Linked DNA regions of Homo sapiens: region 2 is linked to region 1. A link means that fine-mapping ties the variant in region 1 to the plasma level of a protein whose gene starts in the linked region. Region 1 holds a variant in brackets. A gene starts in the other region. All regions are shown on their forward strands.

Region 1 (18,633 bases):
AAATTCTACAAAATCAGTGCTTAATTCAACACGCAAAATAAAAGACACTTGTATTCAGTCACCAAGCAAAGAGTGCCAGAAATCACATCCAAAGTCAGTTCCACTTTCTTCAAGGAAGAAAGAAGCCTCTCTGCAGTTTGTTGTAGAACCAAGTGAAGCCACCAACAGATCAGTTCAGGCCCATGAAGTTCGTCAGAAAATTCTGGCAACTGATGTTAGTTCCAAAAATACACCTGACTTGAAAAAAATGTGAAGTAGAAACATAAATGATCATCACAGTGAAGCTGATGAAGAATTTTACTTATCTGTTGGCTCACCTTCTGTTCTTTTGGATGCAAAAACATCTGTATCGCAAAATGTTATTCCATCTAGTGCCCAAAAGAGAGAGACTTACACTTTTGAAAATTCAGTAAATATGCTGCCTTCAAGTACAGAGGTTTCACTTAAAACCAAAAAAAGATTAAACTTTGAAGATAAAGTTATTTTAAAGAAAATAGAAATAGATAGAAATAGATAATAAAGTATCAGATAAAGAGGATAAAACATCAGAAGGACAAGAAAGAAAACCATCAGGATCATCTCAGAATAGAATACGACATTCAGAATATGAAATTCAATGACAAGCTAAAAAAAGTTTTTCAACATTGTTTTTAGAAACAGTAAAACGAAAAAGTGAATCCAGTCCCATTGTTAGGCATGGAGGAATTGTTCCACCTCATTCGTGTCCTCCCGATGATATGAAGTTGATAGAGGATGAATTTATAATTGATAAGTCAGATCAAAGTTTTGCCAGTAGATCTTGGGATTACTATACCAAGAAAGGCGGGGCCTCTGAAACAACGCACCATATCCCCGGCTGAGAGCACTGCACTCCTTCAAGATAGAAAGTCAAGAGAAAAGCATCATAATATATTAGCTAAGACTTTGGCAAATGACAAACATTCCCATAAACCTCACCTAGTAGAGACATCTCAGCCCTCTGATAAAACAGTACTGGATACAAGTTATGCTTTGACAGGTGAAACAGAAAATGACTGTAGATCTACAAAATATGAAATGTATTCCAAGAATGCAGAAAAATCATCTGGAAGCAAAAGGACTATAAAACAAAAACAGAGAAGAAAATTTATGGCTAAACCAGCTGAAGAACAGCTCGATGTGGGACAGACTAAAGATGAAAACATACATATGTCACATATTACCCAAGACAAATTTCAAAGAAATTCAGACAGAAATATGGAAGAGCGTGAAGAGATGGGAAATGATTGTGCTTCCAAAATACAGATGCCACCTGTGGGAAGCAAGAAAAGTAGCACTAGAAAAGATAAGGAAGAATCTAAAAAGAAGCGCTTTTCTAGTGAGTCCAAGAACAAACTTGTGTCTGAAGAAGTGACTTCAACTGTCACGAGAAGTCGAAGAATTTCCAGGCATCCGTCTAATTGGTGGGTGGTAAAATCAGAGGAGAGTCCTGTTTATAGCAATTCTTCAATAAGAAATGAATTACCACTGCATCACAACAGTAGGCAAAAATCTGCTAAGAAAACAAATCAGTCATCTAAGAATATTGGGAAAAAAACTATTCCACTTAAAAGGCAGAAGACAGCAACTAAAGACAGCCAAAGAGTACAGAAGTTTTTAAATGCTAAAGGTTCTGGAGGTATCATTGGTCATGATGAAATTTCCAGTTGTTTCCTGAGTGAGCCATTGGAAAGTGATGAGGCAGACTTGGCTAAGAGGAAAAATCTGGATTGTTCTAGATCTACAGGAAGCTCAAAGAATGAAGATAATATTATGACTGCACAGAATGTTCCCCTAAAGCCTCAGACCAGTGGATATACATGTAATACACCAACAGAGTCAAACTTGGATTCTGGAGAGCATAAGACTTCAGTTTTAGAGGAAAGTGGACCTTCCAGGCTCAATAATAATTATTTAATGTCTGGAAAGAATAATAATGATGTGGATGATGAGGAAGTTCCTGGAAGTTCAGATGACTCAAAACGAACTAAAGTGATACCAAAGAACAGAATCCATCACAAACTAGTATTGCCCTCCAACACACCAAATGTTCGCAGGACCAAGAGAACACGTTTGAAACCTTTGGAGTACTGGCGAGGACAGCAAATAGATTATCAAGGAAGGCCATCAGGAGGATTCGTGATTAGTGGAATACTATCTCCAGGCAAAATATCGTCTAAAAGGAAGGCAAGAGAAAATATTGGAAAAGTTGACAAAAAAATCTAATAAGAAAAGGATCTGTCTTGATAACGATGAAAGAAAGACTAGCTTAATGGTAAATCTAGGTATACCTCTTGGAGATCCTTTGCAGCCAGCAATGGTAAAGGACCCAGAAACAAGAGAGATTATTCTCATGGATCTTGTAAGGCCACAAGATACATATCAATTTTTTGTTAAGCATGGTGAGTTGAAGGTATATAACACATTGGATACACCCTTTTTTTCTACTGGGAAATTGATATTAAGACCACAAGAAGAAAAGGGAAAGCAGCATGTTGGCCAGGATATATTGTTTTTTTATGTTAACTTTGGTGACCTTTCGTGTACTTTACACGAAATACCTTATATAATAAGTACTGGGGATTCGTTCTATGTTCCTTCAGGTAACTATTATAACATCAAAAATCTCCTGAATGAGGAAAGTGTTCTTCTTTTTACTCAGATAAAAAGATGAAAGATCAACCAACCTTAAATATATGTGTGTATATATGTATATGTGAAAAAGTTTGTATAGTTGGGACATTTGTCTTTGTAATTACTTGTGATGTTTTAAAATAAAAAAATTATTCATTTTTGTGAAAAAAAGACATCTATCCCTATCCCTATCCCTATCCCTATCCCTCTCTCCCCACGGTCTCCCTCTCCCTCTCTTTCCACAGTCTCCCTCTGATGCCCAGCCGAAGCTGGACTGTACTGCTGCCATCTCGGCTCACTGCAACCTTGCTGCCTGATTCTCCTGCCTCAGCCTGCCGAGTGCCTGCGATTGCAGGCACGCGCCGCCACGCCTGACTGGTTTTTGTATTTTTTTGGTGGAGACGGGGTTTCGCTGTGTTGGCCGGGCTGGTCTCCAGCTCCTAACCGCGAGTGATCTGCCAGCCTCGGCCTCCCGAGGTGCCGGGATTGCAGACGGAGTCTCATTCACTCAGTGCTCAATGTTGCCGAGGCTGGAGTGCAGTGGCATGATCTCAGCTAGCTACAACCTCCACCTCCCAGCCGCCTGCCTTGGCCTCCCAAAGTGCCAAGACTGCAGCCTCTGCCTGGCTGCCACCCCGTCTGGGAAGTGAGGAGCGTCTCTGCCCGGCCACCATCCCGTCTAGGAAGTGAGGAGCGTCTCTGCCCGGCCGCCCATCGTCTGAGATGTGGGGAGCGCCTCTGCCCCGCCACCCCATCTGGGATGTGAGGAGAGCCTCTGCCCTGCTGCGACCCCGTCTGGGAGGTGAGGAGCGTCTCTGCCCGGCCGCCCCGTCTGAGAAGTGAGGAGCCCCTCCGCCCGGCAGCCGCCCCATCTGAGAAGTGAGGAGCCCCTCCGCCCGGCAGCCGCCCCATCTGAGAAGTGAGGAGCCCCTCCGCCCGGCAGCCGCCCCGTCTGAGAAGTGAGGAGCCCCTCCGCCTGGCAGCCGCCCTGTCTGAGAAGTGAGGAGCCCCTCCGCCCCGCAGCCACCCTGTCTGGGAAGTGAGGAGCGTCTCCGCCCGGCAGCCGCCCCGTCCGGGAGGGAGGTGGGGGGCGCCTCTGCCCGGCCGCCGCCCCATCCAGGAGGTGGGGGGCGCCTCTGCCCGGCCGCCCCTTCTGGGAAGTGAGGAGCCCCTCTGCCCGGCCACCACCCCATCTGGGAGGTGTACCCAACAGCTCATTGAGAACGGGCCATGATGACGATGGCGGTTTTGTGGAATAGAAAAGGGGGAAATGTGGGGAAAAGATAGAGAAATCAGATTGTTGCTGTGTCTGTGGAGAAAGAAGTAGACATAGGAGACTCCATTTTGTTCTGTACTAAGAAAGATTCTTCTGCTTTGGGATGCTGTTGATCTATGACCTTGCCCCCAACCCTGTGCTCTCTGAAACATGTGCTGTGTCCACTCAGGGTTAAATGGATTAAGGGCGGTGCAAGATGTGCTTTGTTAAACAGATGCTTGAAGGCAGCATGCTCCTTAAGAGTCATCACCACTCCCTAACCTCAAGTACCCAGGGACACAAACACTGCGGAAGGCCGCAGGGTCCTCTGCCTAGGAAAACCAGAGACCTTTGTTCACTTGTTTATCTGCTGACCTTCCCTCCACTATTGTCCTATGACCCTGCCAAATCCCTCTCTGCAAGAAACACCCAAGAATGATCAATAAAAAAAAAAAAGAAAGAAAAAAGACATTAACGTTAATAAGTATAGAGGAAAAGAATGATAATTTGTACTGTGCAAAAATTAAGAAGTTTTGTTCACTGAGAGATACCACTAACCAAGTAGAAAAGCAAGCCACCAAGTGGCAAAGAAGATATTTACAACACATATATCCAACACATAACAAAGTGTGCATATACAGAATCTATAAAGAATGCTACGAATCAGCCAGGTACAGTGGCTCATGCCTGTAATCCCAGCAATTTGAGACGCCAAGGTGAGAGGACCACTTGAGGCCAGGAGTTTGAGACCAACTTGGGCAACATAATGAGACTCCATCTCTACAAAAAAAATAAAATTTAAAAAGAATGCTACAAATCAATAAGAAAAAGGCACACTACCCAACAACAACAACAAAAATAGGCAAAGGACTTAAACAGGCACTTTGCAAAAGAAGATACCCATATGGTCAATAAACATATGAAAATGTGCTCAATTCCATTAGTCATCACGAAAACGTAAATTAAAACCACAATGAGATATCCGTGCACACTCATCAGAATGATTACAATGAAAAAGATAAATAACACCAAATCTTGGTGAGGATGTAGAACAACTGGAATGTTCATATACTACTAGTGGTTATAACCACTTTGAAAATCTATTTTGAAATATCTATTGAAGCTGAATATATACTTAGTATTTGATTCAGCAATTCCACTTCTAGGAATATACCCACAGAAATTCTTATGTATGGTTAGCAAAAGACATGTGCAATGTTTGTGGCAATACTATTCACAATAGATCAAAGCTAGAAGCCCAACTATCCAAGTAAAATGAATACATAAATTGTGATATATTCATGTTGCATACCCACTGTGTTAAATTTTACTTATATGAAGTTTAAGAAGAAGCAAAATTAACCTATGAAGTTAGAAGCAAACATAGTGATTATGTGGATGGCAGGGAGGGAGTATAGTGGCTGGAAGGGAACACAAGAGGGGACTTCCGGAGATGCTGGTAATGTTATGCTTCTCACTCTGGGTTTTGGTTAAATAAGCAGGTCACATTCTAAATATTCATCAAGCTTTACAGTTATATGATTTGTGCAATTTTTGGAACATATCAATGCTTCAATAAAACATTTAGGAAAAAGCAGAAAACATCACTCTAGCTGTTGTGTGGAGAAGCTACAAGGGGCAAGGGACAGATCTATTAGGAGGCTACTGCAATCACGCAGTCAGGAGAAAGCAGTGGTCTGGACTAGACTGCGAGCCTTGGAAGGAGGAAAAAGAGTCAAAATCAAGATATACTGTAGGGTCTATGAGACTTGCTAATGACTAGATGTGAGGGAGAGAAAAAGAGAAGATGCTAGAATTTTGGCCTGGGCACTGAAGTGAGTTTTAGTGCCATTTAATGAGATGAGAAAGACCAGAAAAGGAGATCTGAAGTGATACAGGTTGGGGTGGACATAGTAGTTTTGAGATGCCAATTAGACATACAAGTGAAAATGTCAAGTAGGAAGATGGATATACCCCGCCTGGAGCCCAGGGAGAGGTTCTGACTGTACAGTGTGGTGGTTAAAAGAACACCCTGTGAAATTAGACTCACTGTGTTCAAATCCATGCTGTCACTTACTGCTGTGTGCCCTTGGGCAAGTTATTCCACCTCTCTGTGCCCAGGACATTTCATTTGCAAAATGAGGTGTTAAAAGTATTAAAGGAAATAGTACTTGCAATTTATGCCTGCCACATGAAAAATACTCAAATGTAGCTATTATTGCTAAAGTTTTCTCTGTTAGTAGTAACTTAGAGAAAGTACTAAAGACTGTAAACTAGATGGGATCACTGAGGAAATCAGTACAGATAAAGAAGAGGTTGAGGACACTTAACGTTCAGATAAGGAAGAGCAAAGGAAGGAGCCACAAACGAAGTAGGAGAGGAACAAGGACATTGTGGTGTCCAGGAAGAGAAGGAGCATTCCAAGAGGGTGACAAGTGTGTCAAATGAGGTTTAGTAAAATCAGGCCTGATCAGGACCTGCTACATAATTTGCAGGGCCTAGTGCAAAACGTAAATGTGAAGCTCTTATAGGAAAATAATTAAGAATTTCATAGCATTAAACTAAGCATGGGGCCCTGTGCAACTGTACAGGAGGTATGCCCACAAAGCTGGCCCTGGGCCCAAGAGAGAGGAGGTTCCAGCGGGGCTTCCTGGGTCGAGTAGGGGCTCAGAAAGCTGTGAAACTCACTCATTTCCTGCATCAGGACTTACTTTGGTCCTGGATAAATAATATTGAAGATATATACTTAAAATATTCCTAACATCAGAATTTGTCCATGTGTTTTCTTCCTCAAGAAAGTGGGATCAAAGCCAGAAAGGCATGGAGTCAGAAGAAAATAGGAGGGAGTTAATACATATTATATAACATATTACGACCCCCAAGGCAGCAGATCACTTCAGCCCAGAAGTCTGAGACCAGCTGGGCAACGTCTCGAAACCCCGTCTCTACAAAAAATAACAAAAAAATTAGCTGGGCATGGTGACCTGCACCTGTATTCCCAGCTACTCTGTGGGGGTGGGGGAGGCTGAGGTGGGAGATAGAGGCTGTACTGAGCCACGATTGCGCCACTGCACTCCAGCCTGCTCCAGACAGAGCAAGGCCCTGTCTCAAAAAAAAAAAAAAAAAAAAAAAAAACTATGAAAACCAACATTGAATTTCCCTCTTTACTTCCTTAACCTTCTTTCTTAGGAAAGAACTGTCCTACCAAACCCTAATACCATGATAATAAAATGTATTTGGTTATTGATGTCAGTGTTGTACTGTGTCAACTTGGAATTTGCTTTCATACATTTCCATTAAACCACACCCTATATAAACATTACCACATAATTTAAAATGTCAAAGCTTGTACCATTCATCTTCAACGGGTCTATTTCGAGATAAAATGTCAAAAGGGAGGAAATTAAGGGAAAACATTAACTAGTAATCTACCAGTTTAAAAAAACTATTTATGTTCTATAACAATAATCCATTGTTTCAAGAAATCCCTGTTGGCAGAAGAAAGAACAAAGCCCATGCTTACCTAGGTCAGTGCTTTGTCTCTGGAGGTGACAACAAAGAACAACAAATGGAAAACATGTTTGCTCTTTGTCTGTCACACAATGTCCAAATGGCCACCCGTCTTTGTGTCACCTTAAGTACCAATAACTTCCTTGAGTCAACTCAAGCTTTCTCACTCATTGATTTGACCAAAATCAGCTGCAGTTACTTAGAGGCTCTGTCTGGAACACTATTTTCTGAAAAGAAATGTTACCGTCTCCAGTTTTTTGTTTCTTACAAATTATCTTACGTATCTTTTCAGTTGGTAATATGTGTACCTGAAACAGAATTCCAATATTACAGAATTCCAACATTACAAAACAGCATTTAATGAAATCTCCTTCTAGTCCTTGGCAACCTGGTTCTCCTTCCCAGAAGCAACCAGCATTACTAATTTCTGGGGAATCCTTTGTGCTTATACAAATGTGTGTGTCTATTCTCATATGCTTTTTATACAAATGGTAGTATATTATTCTTGCTATTCTGCATTTTGCCTCTCTATCTTGCTTCCTCAGTCTACTTAGCATGATATATGTTGGAGACAATGTTTTGTTAATACCTAGAGCTGCCTCATTCCCTTTTCCCTCTTATTTTTGGTAAATTTTTATTTTGATAATTTTAAGCTTACAGAAAAATTACAGAAGAGTTCTTAGGTTGCTCTTTGTCTTTATTGACCTTGATGTTCTTGAAGACTATAGGCTTGTTATTTTGGTAGCATGTTTGTTAATTTTATTAGATTGAAGATATAATTTTGACAAGAATATCACAAAAGTTATGTTGTACCCTTAGCAGTGCATCATATTAGGGTGCACATGATGTCTCTTTGTCCTAATAGTGTTGATGTTTACTTTGATTGCTTGGTTTAGGTGATCCTACCTCTACCATGTAAAGTTACTATTTTTCCCTTTGGAATTAATTAGTAACTTGTAGCATAATATGGTTTGGCTGTGTCCCCACCGAAAATCTCATCTTGAATTGTAATCCGAATTATAATCCATGTGTTGGGGGAGGGACCTTGTGGGAGGTGATTAGATCATGGGGGCTGTTCTCATGATAGTGAGTGATTTCTCACAAGATCCGATGGTTTTATAAGGAGCTTCCCCACCTTTGCTCTGCACTTGTCTCTCCTGCTGCCATGTGAAGAAGGATGTGTTTGTTTCCCCTTAGGCTATGATCCTAAATTTCCTGAGGCCTACCCAGCCATGTGAAACTATGTGTCAATTAAACCTTTTTCCTTTATAAATTACCCAGTCTTAGGCGGTTCTTTATAGAAGTGTGTGAACAGACTAATAGATGGAGAGACAAGACTATATAAATATCGTCTTCCTCACCAAACTGTCACACACTAATTTTAGCATCCTTTCATAATTTTCTAACCCATCATTCTATGATTTACTACTTAATTGATGTTTAATTAGTAAGTTAATGAATATTTTAAAAATGTATTTACTGTTGTAAGGAAGAACCATCCATTTTCCTCCATTTATCTGTTTACTCATTTACTTATTTTTATCAGTGTGAATGCATAGATTATTTAATTCAACAGGTTATAATCCATAACTATCATTTATTTTGACTCTCAAATTGTTCCAGATTTGGCAAATGAAAGCCCCTTTAAAAGCTGGCCTCTGTGTCCTTTTGATATATTTCCATTCTTCAAATACTCCCTTATTTTCTAGAATTACACGATGTTCTAAGATGTACTTCTCCCACTCCAGCCCTGAAATGGGCCTTTTTTTTTCCCCTCCAAAAGCTCTGATTTCTTTTAATGGATAATGGTATTTAGAAACCAATATCTGGGCACAATGTTTGCTTATTGCTACTGGTGTGTCAGTGAACAGAGCTAAGGAGTAAGACAGAAATCTCAACGGGCAGAACTAAGAAATTAGCTATAAATAGAAAGCTATTATCTATCTATATGTAGGTATATCAATTGATATAGGTATTAAAAACCATGAGTTCTAATCTAACACCACAGAATACATTCTTGCCCTCCTTTTTTCCATATCTGTGACTCTCTTTTCCCACAATAAGAAACCTGGCTCCCATGCTCAATATATCTTTGCTCAATCCTAAAATACAAACAGTAGTTTCAGAATCATGGAACCACACCACTGCAAAAACAATCCCACTAACTAGAGTTCAGGATTCAATTTTGGTTTTTTTGCGACAGAGTCTC[A/C]CTCTGTTGCCCAGGCTGGAGTGCCGTGGGGCGATTTTGGCTCACTGCAACCTCTGCCTCCCGGGTTCAAGTGATTCTTGTGCCTCAGCCTCCCAAGTAGCTGGGATTACAAGCATGCGCCACCACACTCAGTTAATTTTTTTTGTATTTTTAGTAGAGACAGGGTTTCAGCATATTGTCCAGGCTGGTCTCGAACTCCTGGCCTCAAGTGATCTACCTGCCTTGGCCCCCCAAAATGCTGGGTTTGCAAGTGTGAGTCACCACGCCCAGCCTGTTTCGTTTTTTTAACTGGGAGGCAATTAAATTATAGGTGGCTCCTTTTTGTTCTTGTACACTTCCTTTTGTTCTTTGGTAGCATGGGTCTGCTTGAGCTTGGAAATTAGTCCTAGGGCATGGCCCTTTCTTTCAGGTGTGGTCCTGATTCCTAAAGACCTGGCCTTTCTGGTGTCTCAACTCAATGTCTGAAGTGCTCAGAGAGATTTCCTCTTTGTTGGAGCTAGAGACCTAGACATCCAGCCCTGCATGGTCATTAGTATCATTCAGCTCTCAGTCTAGCAGTGAGAGATCCCTGGTAGTCTCACAGTTTCCCACTCTGCACATCCTGAGCTCAGCCAGGCTGTTACTCTGAGGCTGCTCTACCTCTCTGCTGTGCAGCAGGAAAAGTGCTCCCAGGAAGAAAGCCAAGGAGATCATCACCTTGCATGTTTTCTTTCTTGCAAAGATCATAGTTTTCACACTCTCTGTAGGTCAGTGCCTGAAAACAGCTAACTCACATATATTTTGTCCAGTTTTACAATTATTAGGTTGTGCAAAATTGCAGTTTTTGCTATTGATATTTTCAGCAACAAATTAGTTTCGTCACTGGAGGAAGAAATATGTTTTTATTCTTTTTTTTTTTTGATATGGAGTCTCATTCTGTCGCCCAGGCTAGAATACAGTGGCACAATCTCAGCTCACTGCGGCCTCTGCCTCCTGGGTTCAAGCAATTCTCCTGCCTCAGCCTCCCAAGCAGCTGGGACTACAGGTGCCCACCACACTGGCTAATTTTTTTTGTATTTAGTACAGACAGGGTTTCACCATGTTGGCCAGGCTGGTCTCACACTCCTGGCCTCAGGTGATCTGCCTACTTCGGCCCCCCAAAGTGCTGGGATACAGGCGTGAGCCACCATGCCTGGCCAAACAGTACATATTTTAGATAACTTTGTACATTTGAAATACATTCCCTCTCAGGCCTTTTCATTCCATATTCAAAATAATCCTGACTGGCCAGGTGCAGTGGCTCACGCCTGTAAGCCCAACACTTTGGGAGGCTGAGGCGGGTAGATCACCTGAGGTCAGGAGTTCGAGACCAGCCTGGACAACATGGTGAAATCCCATCTCTACTAAAAATGCAAAAAAGTTAGCCAGGCACTGTGTTGCACACCAGCTACTTGGGAGGCTGAGGCAGGGGAATCGCTTGACTCCGGGAGGCAGAAGTTGCAATGAGCTGAGATGGTGCCACTGCACTCCAGCCTGGGCAACAAAGTGAGACTCTGTCTCAAAAAAAAAAAAAAAAATTCCTGATAATTCAGATTACCTTCATATAGAAATCCTTGGATTTTTCACTTATTTCAGAAGTCCTTCTCTGTATTTTCTACCTCCATTATGTCCTACTATAAAGTCCATTACTGAAAATAAACTCAGCTTTCTAGTTTTACCTGGTGCCATGACTTTGTACTTCATGCTGCATTTCCAGGTTCATGCTTGCCTTTGGGTCACAAAAGAAACACCAGACTGCTTTATTTGGGGGAAAAATAGGGAAATCTAAAGAAATCTATGAGAATGAGTTCTTTCTAAATATTTTTAAGAAAAGAAAAATAAAAGGCAATCCCCAGACATACATCCATAAACGTAGATGGGGCCTGGCATAATGGCTCACTGTAATCTCAGCACTTTGGGAGGCCAAGGCAGGTGAATCACTCGAGTCCAGGAATTTGAGACCAGTTTGGCCAATATGGTGAAACCCTGTCTCTACTAAAAATACAAAAATGAGCCAGGCGTGGTGGCGTGCACCTATAGTACTAGCTACTTGGGAGGCTGAGGCACGAGAATCACTAGAATCCAGGAGATTGGGGCTGTAGTGAGCTGAGATCGCAACACTGCCTTCCAGCGTGGGTGACAGAGTAAGACTGTCTCAAAACAACAATAAACCTAGATGGAAGTGAGGGAGAGGGTTGTACAATAAAAAGACAATATTCCAATCTTGACTAGACAAACTTTAATACTGTAATATGGTCAGAAGTAGTTTGTACTATGCAAGCACTGCATAATAATACAATTAACTGACAGCACTAACTTAAAATCCCTTTGCCTTGAATGAGGAAATAACTAAGCATATTTGCTTTCTAGCTGATACTAAGTAATTAGCTTGCTAGTATAAGCTGGGTCTAAAGGAGCTGTGGGTGCTTTAAAAAGTAATCTTTAGTAATGACAAGCTGAAGAAATTGAATTTAATTTATTCAAATTTCACATGTCTTTGAGGACTGGCAATAACAACAACAGAAACCTTTACTGAATTGGTACCATGGGCCTAGTATTTTTCAATACTGCGTAAGTATCAAGCCCAGGCACGGTGGCTCATGCCTGTAATCCCAGTGCTTCGAGAGGCCAAGGCAGAAGGACTACGATAGGCTAGGAGTTCAAGACCAGCCTCAGCAATATAGCGAGGCTCTCTACAAACAATTTAAAAAATTACCTGGGTTTCGTGGTGCATGCCTGTAGTCCCAGCTACTCCAGAGGCTGAGGGAGGCGGGCGGCTGGAGCTTGACCAGGAGGTCAAGGCTGCAGTGTGCTGTAACTGCATCACTGTACTCCAGACTAGGCGCCTTTATAAGTATTACTTTATTTAATCCTAACAACAAGGCAGATAAATATCATTATCTCTATTTTACAGAAGAGGAAACGAGGCTTAGTGAGGTTAGGTAACTGGTCAAGGTAATATAGATGAAAAGTGAAAAGAGCTCAATTTTTAACCCAGTTTTATAAGATTCCAAAGCCTAGGCTTTTAACCAATAAACCAGTGCTTCTCAAAGCAAAGGGAATTTATGAATTATCTTCATTACAGTTACTGGGATCCTTGTAAAAAAGACGTTATTTCTAGTAAATTATACATTATTTGGGGTGAGACCTGGGAATATAAATTTTTGACAAGTTTCTCACTGAATTCTGATGCACATTGAAATTTGAGAAACACTGCACTCTGTTACTACCTCTCAGTGTATACACTAAATTAGTTTAGCTTTTGTAATTTTTCAGCTTTTATAAATTTAGTAATTTTTTAAGCTATAATAGGAGAAGCTCCACAAAGTACCACATAGGCTGCCATCAAGAATTTGAAAAAAAAAAAAAAAAAGAATTCTTGGCAAACTTTTATTATGATTTCACTGCAGGGAAAGTAACTAAAAAGTTCAAATTTCAGTCTGCTTCTATTCAGTCAAAAAAGGAAAGATTAACTTGTTCTTTACCATCATTTGTTGTACAAGCACACCACATGTTACAGGATTGAATCAATGACAGGATAACCTTGAAGGAAATAGAGGGGGAAGTAACAACTTCAATGTTAAAATTATGTAATTTTCAACAGAAACTTCTAAAGTACAGCTCAGATTCTGCAAACCCTGTGAAAATACTTTAACAGGCTTTTACTGTTTGTTTAAACTTTAATGTGGCCCTCTGCGAAAGGGATGACTGGCCTAATGGAAAAGGGTATGGTTCTGAAATCAGACTCAAACCAGGCTCTATTAGGCTAGAGGTCCCCAACCCCCAGGCTGCGAACTGGTTCTGGTCCATGGCCTATTAGGAACTGGGCTGCACAGCAGGAGGTGAGCGGCAGGCAAGCAAACCTTAAGGCTTGAGCTCCAGCTCCAGTGAGATCAGCAGCGGCATTAGATTCTCATAGGAGTGTGAACCCTGCTGTGAAAATTGTCTTCCATGAAGCCAGTCCCTGGTGCCAAAAAGATTGGGGACCACTACTAGGCTCTGCTGCCTACTAGCTTTATAGTTTTGGGCAAGTTACTGAAATTTCAGCTTCCGCAACCATAAAAAGGGATGACAACACTTCACAGGCTATTTTGTTTTCTCCCATCCTCTTCCCTCTCATCACCTTTCCACCCATCCTGTGAAACCTAAGAGCCCCTATAATATGGTTTGGACTTATGACCCCACCCAAATCTCATGTTGAATTGTAATCCCCAGTGTTGGAGGAGGGGCCTGGAGGGACATGATTGGATCATAGGGGCAGAATTCCCCCTTGCCGTTCTCGTGATAGTGAGTGAGTTCTCACAAGATCTGGTTGTTTAAAAGTATATAGCACCTCCCCTTCTCTTCCTCCAGCTCTGGCCATGTAAGATGTGCCTGCTTCTCCTTCACCTACTGCCATGATTGTTAAGTTTCCTGAGGCCTCCCCAGCCATGTTTCCTGTATAGCCTGTGGAACTGTGAGCCAATCAAAACTCTTTTCTTTATAAGTTACTCAGTTTCATGTATTTCTTTTTTTTTTTTTTTTTTTTTTTTTAGACGAAGTCTTACTCTGTCGTCCAGGCTGGAGTACAGCGGCATGATCTCGGCTCATTGCAGCCTTTGCCTCCCGGGTTCAAGCAATTCTCCTCCCTCAGTCTCCCAAGTAGCTGGGACTACAGGCGCCTGCCACCACACCTGGCTAATTTTTTATTTTTAGTAGAGACGGGGTTTCACCATGTTGGCCAGGCTAGTCTCAAACTCCTGACTTCAAGTGATCTGCCTGCCTCAGCCTCCCAAAGTGCTGGGATTGCAGGCATAAGCCACTGCGCCCGGCCTCAGGTATTTCTTTATTGCAGTAGGAGAACAGACTAATATATCCTACCTTCTAAGAGTCTACTAAGAAAAAAATCCACATGCTTCAGGTCCTGCTTCCTCTAATCATGACCAGAAGTTGAAGCCTCAAGCCTCTCTGGTCATTAAGCATTGTGCAATCTCTCACTCCCATAATGCTATGGATATCCCCTTAAGCTGACCTGGTACCCACGCCTTCTCTCCTCAAAATTTACCACTGAGCCACATCACCCACTAGATGATGCCTCTTGTATTCACATCCTCCTCTCTGTAAGTCCCTCTTCCTCCTTAAGTACTTAAATCTTGACTCTGCTTGGGGACACCAAGTTTCCTGACACCTTTCAAGCAGCAATCATTTTCTCTTTCACATGTCAGCTACTTCAGGTCACAGTCTTCCTCTCCATTTCAACTCTGAGCATTATGAATTAACTCAACAGATATGTGACCCCAGCAACATGTAAGGCATTGTGGCAAAAAGGGGGAGTCCTAAGTAACAAAGCAGACAGAAATCTCTAATTGGGGAGCTTAAATTCAAGTGGAAACACAGACAAATATATCATTGTATTTATTTATTTATTTTTATTAATTTTTTGAAGATAGGGGTCCCACTATGTTCCCCAGGCTGGTCTCAAACTCCTGGGCTCAAGGTATCCCTCCTGCCTCAGCCCCTTGAGTAGGTGGGACTACAGGCATGCACCACTGTGCTTGGCTTTATATCATTTTAAATTGTGCTAAGAGGCATGAAAGATAAAGCAGGAAGTTTTATTTTGTGTGGGGGTGGAATCTTAATTTAGATAGAGTGATCAGGGGCATTTTAAGTGGAGGTGTGAAGGACAGGGAGTCAGCCAAATAAAGAGTGAGGTGGTGAAGAACATTTCAGACCAAGGGGAAAATAGGGCCTCTCCAAAGACCTTTTTTCTCCTGCCTCCTCAGCAACCCATTCTGAGGATCTTGTCACCAGCAGAACATGAGCACTTCTCAAATCTCTGATTGCAACCCACAGGACAACTTGCTTTCCTTATGACTCACTCACTTCCATCCCATCCAGAACTCCAAGACCCATGTTCTCATCCAGACCCATGTTCTCCATTGAGGCTCTCTTCTCACCATCTTCACTTCACTAACCAATTTATAACCTTCATTTCTCTCCTTATTCAATTATAATCCCCTTCATACACATAACGTTCAATCCCTTGACTCTCCCTCCTTCCTTCAAATTCCCCTGGCAAAAATCCCAATCACTCTGCCTTTTCTGAGATTATAACTATACCAGTGAGAATTGCTGGTCAACCCAACCCCCAAACAGATTGGAAACACTATAAATTTGATAACTAAGTTCACATGGGTCTTATATACTCCAAAGTGGTGCATGATTCTCTATTAGTTTCTTCCTCCACTCTCTCTAATGACTATTTAATATTGTCTCTATCTTCAACATTTCTACCCCACTCCTAACCCTTGGCTTTCATGATACCCTACTATAACGGCTTTCCCTCCTATCTTTCTGATTATTCTTTCTTAGGTTATTTTGCTATCTCCTCTTCTGATCTACAGGTTGGATATCTTCAATATTCAGACATGGGGTATTTGTTCTCATTGCTCTACATTCTTCCCAGGTGATCTCATTCATTCCCATGACACTAAATACCATTTATATGCTAATAATTCCCAAATTTCCATCTTGCCCAGACCATCACACTAATTTGAAGACCATTATCCTAGTTTGAACCAACATCATCTGCTGGTATTACTATAATCCCCCTAAGTGATTTCCCTACTAATAGTACAATCTCCATATAGTAGCCAGAGTGGTCTTTTTGAGGTACAAATCAAATCATGTTATTCCCTTACTAATCCCTCCAACAATTTCCACCACTCTCAGAACAAAATCCTAAAACATGTCAAGTTTCCTGTAGCTGCTGTAACAAATTACCATAAACCTGGAGGCATAAAACAACAGAAATTTATTATCTCACAGTTCCAGAAACCAGAAGCCTGAAATCATGGTGTTGGCCGGGCCACACTCTCTCCAAAGGCTCTAGGGGATATCTCATTCCCCACCTCTCCCAGGTCCTGATGTCTCTAGGCACTCACTGGCTTGTGGCTGTGTCACTCCAATCTCTGCCTCTGGCTTCACGTGGCCTCCTCTTATGTCCTCTGTATGTTTTTTACAAGGACACATCGCTGGATTTAGGGCCCACCCAGATAATTCAGGATGATCTCATAATCATTAAGATCCTTTGTAGACTTACATCTACAAAGACTTTTTCCTCCCAAATAAGGTCACATCACAGGTTCCAAGGACTACGACATGGACACATGTTTTGGAGGGCCACCATTTAAACCCACTATAGCTTCAAGGCCCTGCCTAAGCTATCTCTACCTCCCCCTACAGCTTCATCTCTGTTTACCAGGTTCTACCCATTCTGGCATTCTTATACTTTCTTGATCTAGGACAGCTCTTTCTCACCCATGATCTTTGCCTATGCTACTCTCCTTTTAGTCCTTACCTAGCTAACTTCTCCTTCTGGTCTTCAGTTAAATCTAACTTTCACAGGGAAGTATTCCTTGACCCCATAAATATAAGGATGTCTCCACTGTTATCCTCCCTTTAAAAAGCACTCTATGGCTGGGTGCAGTGGCTCACAACTGTAATCCCAGCACTTTGGGAGACTGAGGTGGGTGGATCACTTGAGGTCAGGAGTTCCAGACCACCCTGGCCAACATGGTGAAACCCCATCTCTACTAAAAATACAAAAATTAGCCAGGCATTATGGCATGCACCTATAGTCCCAGCTACTTGGGAGGCTGAGGCATGAGAATCGCTTGAACTTGGGAGATGGAGGTTGCAGTGAGCCAAGATCACACCACTGCACTCCAGCCTGGGCAACAGAGTGAGACTTGGTCTCAAAAAAAAAAAAGAAAAAAGCATTCTATTCCTTTCCTTCACAGCTTTGACTATTTTCCTTTGTTTCATCATGTTGTTCCAACAAATGGATTCGTGTTTACTTGTTAATTATTTGTCTCCACCACTGGACCATGAACTCTTCATACCATCTTATGAAGCACATCTGCTTTCTTCCCCTCTGTATGTATACCCAGAGCATAAAATGGCATCTGGCACACAGTAGCCTTAACTAAATAAGGGAGTAGTAAATAAATAGAGTGCCTCCTCTTCCCCTTTTGAACAGGATTAGATAAATGCAAATAGACAGGTTAGAATGGTGACCAGACACCCGAAGACACTGCTGGCCTGCAGTAGATATCACTCCCAGCCCAGCCTGGAAGATTGATAAAGCTTGGCACGAATGAAAAAGTAGTACCCCAATAATTATTAAGTTAGAAGGACTGCTCTAATTTTCCTTTTTTTTTTTTTTTAAACATGACACAGCATCAGGAGGTCCTGAGGACATGTGCCCTCTAATTTTCATTTCTGCTGTGGACAACTATACAACTCAGGAGCTCATTTCACCTTTTACAGTAATCTCCACCTCCTGTCCAAAAGGATTGATTGAAGTTTCTCTGAAATTTTAGGAAAAACTCCAATATAAACTGATTTCCAAGCCCCACCTAATACTAAGCAGACTGATTCATTCATATATATGTGTGTAACTTTCTTAATTCTGCAAATTACACAATGATTCAAGTATTATTAATACTAAATACTACTAGCCTGTTCTAAAGTCTAGCATGCACAGAGGCATGCAAAGAGGTCTAGCATGCAAAGAGAAATCTTTTCTGAGACACCTGAAATTCTCCAGCCTGCTTTTTTTCCTGAGGTATTTTTAAAAACTGAGATATTATTTAAATACCATAACATTTAGTCTTTTAAAGTACACCAGTGTTTTGCCCAACATTTGCACAACTTTTATCACAAATTCCAGAACATTCTCATAATCCCCTACCCCCTGCCACCTGCCAAAAATTCATCTCTGTTAGCGTTCTCTATTCCTCCCTTTCCCAGACCCTGGCAAACACTAATGTACTGTCTCTATGGATTTTCCAGTCTTTTTTATACTCGTGAAACTGAAACACAGAGAGATGAAGTGATTTACACAGAGCTGCAAGTCACTTAGAGAGTAAGGTTAGAATACAAGTATTTACAGGAACTTTTAAGTGTATAAAAATTAGTGAAAATATGTTTAGGTCACCTATATATA
Region 2 (6,307 bases), not on the chromosome of region 1:
CCCCACATCTTTTCTGAGGACTGGGTGGTTCACAGGACTCAATGCTGCTGCTGCAGGTCTTCCCAGAAAGCACCCCTCATTGGCCTCTGAGCACGTGTGTCCACACCAGGAAGAGACTCCAGAGCTGATCAGAAGTTTTGTGGCTGCTGTGGGACCACTTCTCACCCTCACCCCTGGGAAATGGGCCTCAGCCCTGTGGCCTCATCTCCTCCTCCCCCTGAGTCATGTCACCTGATGGTTATCGGGACACAGCCGGAATGTGCAACTTCCGGCAAAAAACTCTCATGTTTTGTGGTTATTTTGCACCATTTTGTTTCTTCCTTTGGGTTTGTGGACAGGATGGGGTGAGCAGGATGGGCGTGGCAGGGTCTAAGTCCCCTGATCCCTTCTCCTTTGCAGTAAGTCAGGTGTTTCTCTATGTGCCTAAGGAGAATTGCATCCCATAGATTAAAGTGTAAAGCGCACTTCCTGTGGAATCCAATTTTCCTATTACCTTTCATCAAAAGTAGAGATATATTCCCTCAGAAAAAACTGACCTGAGGATGTTAAGGAACACTGACATTTCAGTATTTGTATAATCATAATAATATTTATTCCCACAGAGGAGCTGTCATTATTGACGTTTTACAGAAGCCACAGGCTTTGCTCAAGTTCATTCGGTGGTAAGTGGACAAGCCACGCCAGAACTTAGCCTTCTGCTTCTCTGTCTGGCCTGGACGTTCAAGATTGCAGCAGCGCCTTTTTGGTCATGGTTGAATCAAAAAATAATTTTTGAGAAACTTTGCAATGATCAGGCCACATAAGCCACCGAATATGACACATCTCCTGCATTTTTATGTTCAGCTCAACAGTGTCATGATCCAAAGTGTCTTGGATCTTTTTTTTTTTGAGACGGAGTCTTGCTCTTGTCACCCAGGCTGGGGTGCAATGGCACGATCTTGGCTCACCGCAACCTTTGCCTCTCGAGTTCAAGCGATTCTCCTGCCTCAGCCTCCCGAGTAGCTGGGATTGCAGGTGCCCGCCACATTTTTTTTATTTTTAGTAGAGACAGGGTTTTGCCACGTTGGCCCGGCTGGTCTCGAACTCCTGACCTCGTGATCCGCCTGCCTCGGCCTCCCAAAGTGCTGGGATTACAGGAGTGAGCCACCGCGCCCGGCCCGAAGTGTCTTGGATCTTAATGAGGTTTAGTTAATCTATGACTGCATCATCATGAAAATTTCCACAATGTCCACCAGGCTTTGTCATTGAATCTTCCAGCAGCAGAGCCCATAGGTCTCCTTGGCTTCCTGACACCTTCGTGGGCAAGGCGCCCCTGTGTTCAGAAGGAAGAGGAAAGTGACAAATTCCAAAAAGGGCCAGAGGGAAGGATATTCTTGGGATCCCATAGCTGGCACAGGGCTCCATGTGGGTGGACACTCTGAGCTTGGGGACTGCAAGCTCCCAGGTGACGCATTACACATTAGGAGTGGCATTTCCTGTGCCCACCTGGTCATTCTGTGCAAGCTGGGGCACCTACTCAAGGCACGTGTGTGAGACTGTGTGTGTGTGAGTGTATGTCACTGTGTGTGAATGTGTCAGTGTGTGAGTTTGTGTGTGAATGTGTGAGTGTATTTCAGTTGTATATGTAAGTGCGTTGTGTGAATTTGAGTGTTTCAATGTGTGAATGTGTATGTGTGTTTGTATCAGTGTGTGTGAATTTGTGTTTGTGTGTGAATGTGAGTTTGTGAATGTGTGTGGGTGAGAGTGCCTGTGTGTTTGTGTGTGTGTATATGTGTGTGTGCATGAACGTGTGTTTGTGAATGTGTGCGTATGTGTGTGTTTGTGAATGTGTGTGGGTGTGTGAATGTGTTTGTGTGAGTGTATGTGTGTGGGTGTGTGTGAATGTGTGTGTATGTGAGTGTGTTTGGGTGAGTGTGTGTGTATGTGAGAGTGTGAGTGTGTTTGTGTGTGTTTGTGTGTGGGTGTGTGAATGTTTGTGTGTGTGTGTGTATGTGCATGAACGTGTTTGTGAATGTGTGTATGTGTTTGTGTGTACGTGTGTGTATGTGTTTGTGAAAGTGTTTGTGAATGTGTGTGTGAGTGTGTATATGTGAGTGTATGTGCATGAACGTGTTTGTTTGTGAATGTGTTTGTGTGTATGTGTGAGTGTGAATGTGTGGGTGTGTGTGAATATGTGTGCATGTGAGTGTGTATGTGAGTGTGTGTTTGTGAATGTGTGTGGGTGTGTGAATGTGTGTTTGTGTGTATGCGAGTGTGTTTGTGAATGTGTGGGTGTGTTTGTGTGTTTGTGAATGTGTGTGGCTGAGTGTGTTTGTGTGTGTTTGTGAATGTGTGTGGGTGAGTGTTTGTGTGAGTGTGTATGTGAGTGTGTTTGTGAATGTGTGTGGGTGAGTGTGTTTGTGTGAGTGTGTATGTGAGTGTGTGTTTGTGAATGTGTGTGGGTGAGTGTGAGTGTGTGTATGTGAGTGTGTGTTTGTGAATGTGTGTGGGTGAGTGTGTGTGGGTGTGAGTGTGTATGTGAGTGTGAGCGTGTGTGTGTTTAGAGTCTGCACTCTGTGTGGATCAGGAAAGGGGTCCTTGCAGGCTCGCTGAGTCCCTGCTCTGTGCCCAGCCCCGAGTTGGCTCCAATGGGGCTATATAGAAAGGAAGGCATGGCCGGAGGACCTCTGTGTCAAGTTGAGGACACATTTCCAAGACTAGGAACCATTCAGGGACTCTGGAGTCACGATGACAACTCCCCTTCCCTCAGCCCCGAAGCCCAGGCCTGGACCTCCAAGGGACTCAGGGAAGGGACTCAGGAAAGGGGAGTTCCCCCTGGCAGCCTCCTCGTGGGCACCACCGAGGGTGAGAGGAGCCAGCTCAGCGGGTCCCACCCCCAGGGTTGCCCACCTTGACCACAAGGAAAGGAGGGAGGAGTTATTGGGCCTTCCACTAGGAGGAGACCCGGGGAAGTGAGAGTCGGGGATCAGTCCTGCAAGCTACGGAGTCACTACAGGGAGAGGTCTCATCACTAGAAATAGCCGAAGAACCTGCAGCCTCAACCAGCGTTAAGGAGGACGTGCCGTTTCTAGGGAGTCTTAGTCGGGGCTCACCAGCTTCCTGCATTTTCTGACCGGCTCCAGGAATAGAACCAAAAGAAGCTGAACAAGGAAGCAGCGCGGCACCAAGAAAAGCAGAAGTCGGGGCCTTGGAGGCGTGACTTTCCCCTCGGGTCCAGGTAGGGCCTGGAGCTGCTGCAAGTGCCGCCTGTGCTGGGGAAGGGACCATGTGGCTGCCTTGGGCTCTGTTGCTTCTCTGGGTCCCAGGTGAGAGTTTCCCTTCCCGGGAAAGTCTGCGGCAGGGAGGGAGGGTGCGAGGGGCAGGGCCGCAGGGCAGGTATCACACGAGACGCCCCGAGTCTGGACTCCGTGCAGAACGCAGAATGCGGTGCGCTCTGTCTACCACATAAGATGGACAGATGAAGGTCCACACCCCTGGGAGAGGAAGGAGCCAGGGCCTCTCCCGGCTCTGCACCCACGTACCTTGGCTGAACCACAGCGGGGCAAGTGATAAGGGGTGGGTGCAGAAAAGGGACCTTTTAGGTTTTCAGTTGAATTCTTACAGGAAGGGGGACGAGAGGCAGGATGTGTCAGGGTGGGTGGAGAGTGGCAGCCACTGACTGCGAGGGGCATGTGGTGAGGGTGGGGGAGATGCCGGGCTCACTGGGTGCAGGGTATGGAGGAGGGGGGTGTGGGGAGGGTGGGGGAGATGCCGGCCTCACTAGGTGCAGGGTACGGAGGAGGGGGTGGGGCGGTGAGGGAGATAGGGTCGGGGTGGGGAGCAGATCGATAGTCTCTGGAATGCGGAGATTTAACCAGGGCAGCCCAGCGGCTGGGGCCTGAGCAGGGGGAAGTCCCGAGGCAGCCTTGGCTGGGGTTAGCCCCTGCATGGGCCTGAGAACCAGGGGTCAGTCCTCTCCAAGAAGGGGATATGGGACAGAGGGGACAGAAAAGGTGGTGGGGAGGGCGAGGAGGGAAAAGATCGGGCAGAGAAGCGCTGAGATCTTCTTTAGGGAGAAGCGTGGAGTTGAGTCTTCCCTGTCCAAGCGCAGGGATTCCTCCCGCAGAGTCACCTGCTGTGCCTTCAGTCACGTCCACCGCTCTCCTCAGACAGCTCCTGTGCAGACTCCTCAGGCCTAGTCCTAGGGTATTGTACGTCTTTGTGGTTGCTTTCCTTACAGATCGGAGGTTTTCTGCAATTATATTTGCTAACTACTTGTCTGTGGGAAGGTTATTACTTTTGGTGTCTTGACTTGGAAACGGGTCATCCTCCCATAACAGGTGCTCCTGCGATTCTCTTGGGTGTTCTTCTGTTTCATAGGGTCGGTGTGCATGGGAAGGTTTCAGTTCCTGTCTAATATCTGTTTCTCTTTCTCCCATTGACTCATTGGCTGGTACAGCCGGAGTGAGGCCCAGCGGACATAGTGGTAGTGGTTGTCCCTGCCTTGTTGCTGACTCAGGGAAAAAGGACCAGAGCTTCTCATTATTAGGAAGAAGGGATCCACCAATGACTATTCACAAAGCATTTTTACTTTTATTTATTTATTTATTTATTTATTTATTTATTTATTTTTTGAGATGGAGTTTTGCTCTTGTTGCCCAGGCTGGAGTGCAGTGGCGCGATCTTGGCTCACTGCAACCTACGCCTCCCAGGTTCAAGTGATTCTCCTGCCTCAGCCTCCCGAGTAGCTGAGATTACAGGCATGTACCACCATGCCTGGTTAATTTTGTATTTTTAGTAGAGATGGGCTTTCTCCATGTTGGTCAGGCTGGTCTCAAACTCCCAACCTCAGGTGATCCACTCACCTTGGCCTCCCAAAGTGCTGGGATTGCAGGCGTGAGCCACCAAGCCTGGCCAACATTTTTATTTTTTTGAGACAGGGTCTCCCTCCGTCACCCAAACTGGAGTGCGGTGGTGCAATCACGGTTCACTGTAGCCTCCACCTCCCGGGCTCAAGTGATCCTCCCACCTCAACCTCCCCAGTAGCTGAGACTACAGGTGTGTGCCACCACACCCAGCTGGATTCTTAATTTTTTTTAGGGACAGGGTCTTACCATGTTGCCCAGGCTGGCCTCCACCTCCTGGGATCAAGGGATCCTCCCATCTTGTCCTCCCAAAATGCAGGGATTACAGGCATGAACCACCACACCTGGCCCCTACAAAACATTTTTTATTTTATTTTTATTTATTTTTTTGGAGACAGAATCTCACTCTATCACCCAGGGCTGGAGTGCAGTGGCTTGATCTCAGCTCACTGCAACCTCCGCCTCCCGGGTTCAAGTGATTCTCCTGCCTCAGCCTCTTGAATAACTGGGCTTACAGGCACCCACCACCACTGCTGGCTAATTTTTTTGTATTTTAGTAGAGACGGGGTTTCACCATGTTGCCCAAGGTGGTCTCGAACTCCTGAGCTCAGGCAATCTGCCAGCCTTGGCCTCCGGCCCCCACAAAATACCATTTTTATTATTTATAGAAATTATTATTATTATTATCCTTTCAGCTATGAAGGAGGTGAACTACATTAGGAGATCTGGTCAGATGTTTGTCTTGATTTATTATGCTGGCTTCATGGAAAGAATTAGGGAGATCTCCCTGTTTCCGTGTTCTCTGCAAATGTTTACATAAAATTGAAATTATTTGTTCCTTGAAGTTTTTAGAGAACTAGCTTGTAAAACTGTCTGAGTTTTGCTTCTTTTTTTTTGATGGAAGGGAAAGAATTTCTTAATAACACTCATCATTTTTGGTCTACATTAAAAAAAATCTAGCTGGGTGCAGTGGCTCACACCTGTAATCCCAGAATTTTAGGAGGTTGAGGTGGGAGGATAGCTTAAGCCCAGGAGTCCGAGACTGGCCTGGGCAGTATAGCAAGCAAGACCCCGTCTCTTAAAAAAAAAAAAAGTCTATTCTTGGCCTACATTGATGATTTATATTTTCCTAAAAAATCATCAGTGTCGCCCAGGTTTGCAGACTTATTTGCAGAGATTTGCAAATTTTTCTTTTGAATTTTATATCTGCGTCTTCTTTATTTTTGGTCTGACTACCTACTAGTCTAATTAATTGTTTGAGGCCAGGCACGTTGGCTCACGCCTGTAATCCCAGCACTTTGGGAGGCCAAGGCGGGTGGATCACTTGAGGTCAGGAGTTTGAGACCAGCCTGGCCAACATGGTGAAACCCCGTGTCTCCTAAAAACACAAAATTAGCCAGGCATGGTAGTGTGCACCCTGTAGTCCCAGCCACTCGGGAGGCTGAGACATGAGAGTCACTTGA

Which allele goes with the higher level. Alleles are on the strand shown, and positions count from the first base shown. The strength of an association depends on the size of the effect and on how common the allele is.
With allele A in place of C in region 1, the plasma level of the protein whose gene starts at base 3,196 in region 2 is higher (moderate association).

Evidence for each region. PIP is the posterior inclusion probability: the model's chance that the variant is causal. The UK Biobank Pharma Proteomics Project read protein levels with antibody pairs (Olink). The fine-mapping took linkage between variants from a reference panel, not from the people measured, so its PIPs are less certain.
Region 2: CD300A starts here. The variant in region 1 is fine-mapped to the plasma level of the CD300A protein (UK Biobank, PIP above 0.99).

What each region holds. Positions count from the first base shown.
Region 1 is chr12:89,500,251-89,518,883 of GRCh38, forward strand. All of the region lies in intron 2 of POC1B-DUSP6 (POC1B-DUSP6 readthrough), which reads right to left. All of the region lies in intron 2 of POC1B (POC1 centriolar protein B), which reads right to left. It also overlaps the pseudogene CENPCP1. Among named protein-coding and RNA genes, the nearest start is that of GALNT4, 15 kb to the right of the region's middle. RefSeq lists an enhancer at 3,093-3,766. The variant A/C (reference allele first, on the strand shown) is at 9,627.
Region 2 is chr17:74,463,439-74,469,745 of GRCh38, forward strand. It overlaps CD300A (CD300a molecule), which reads left to right and starts at 3,196. Exons shown (of 7, transcript NM_007261.4): 1 at 3,196-3,305. The coding sequence starts at 3,266. It overlaps LOC124904056 (a long non-coding RNA gene), which reads right to left and starts at 4,336. Exons shown (of 2, transcript XR_007065899.1): 1 at 4,112-4,336; 2 at 570-1,312. RefSeq lists silencers at 3,688-3,747, 3,788-3,847 and an enhancer at 4,208-4,337.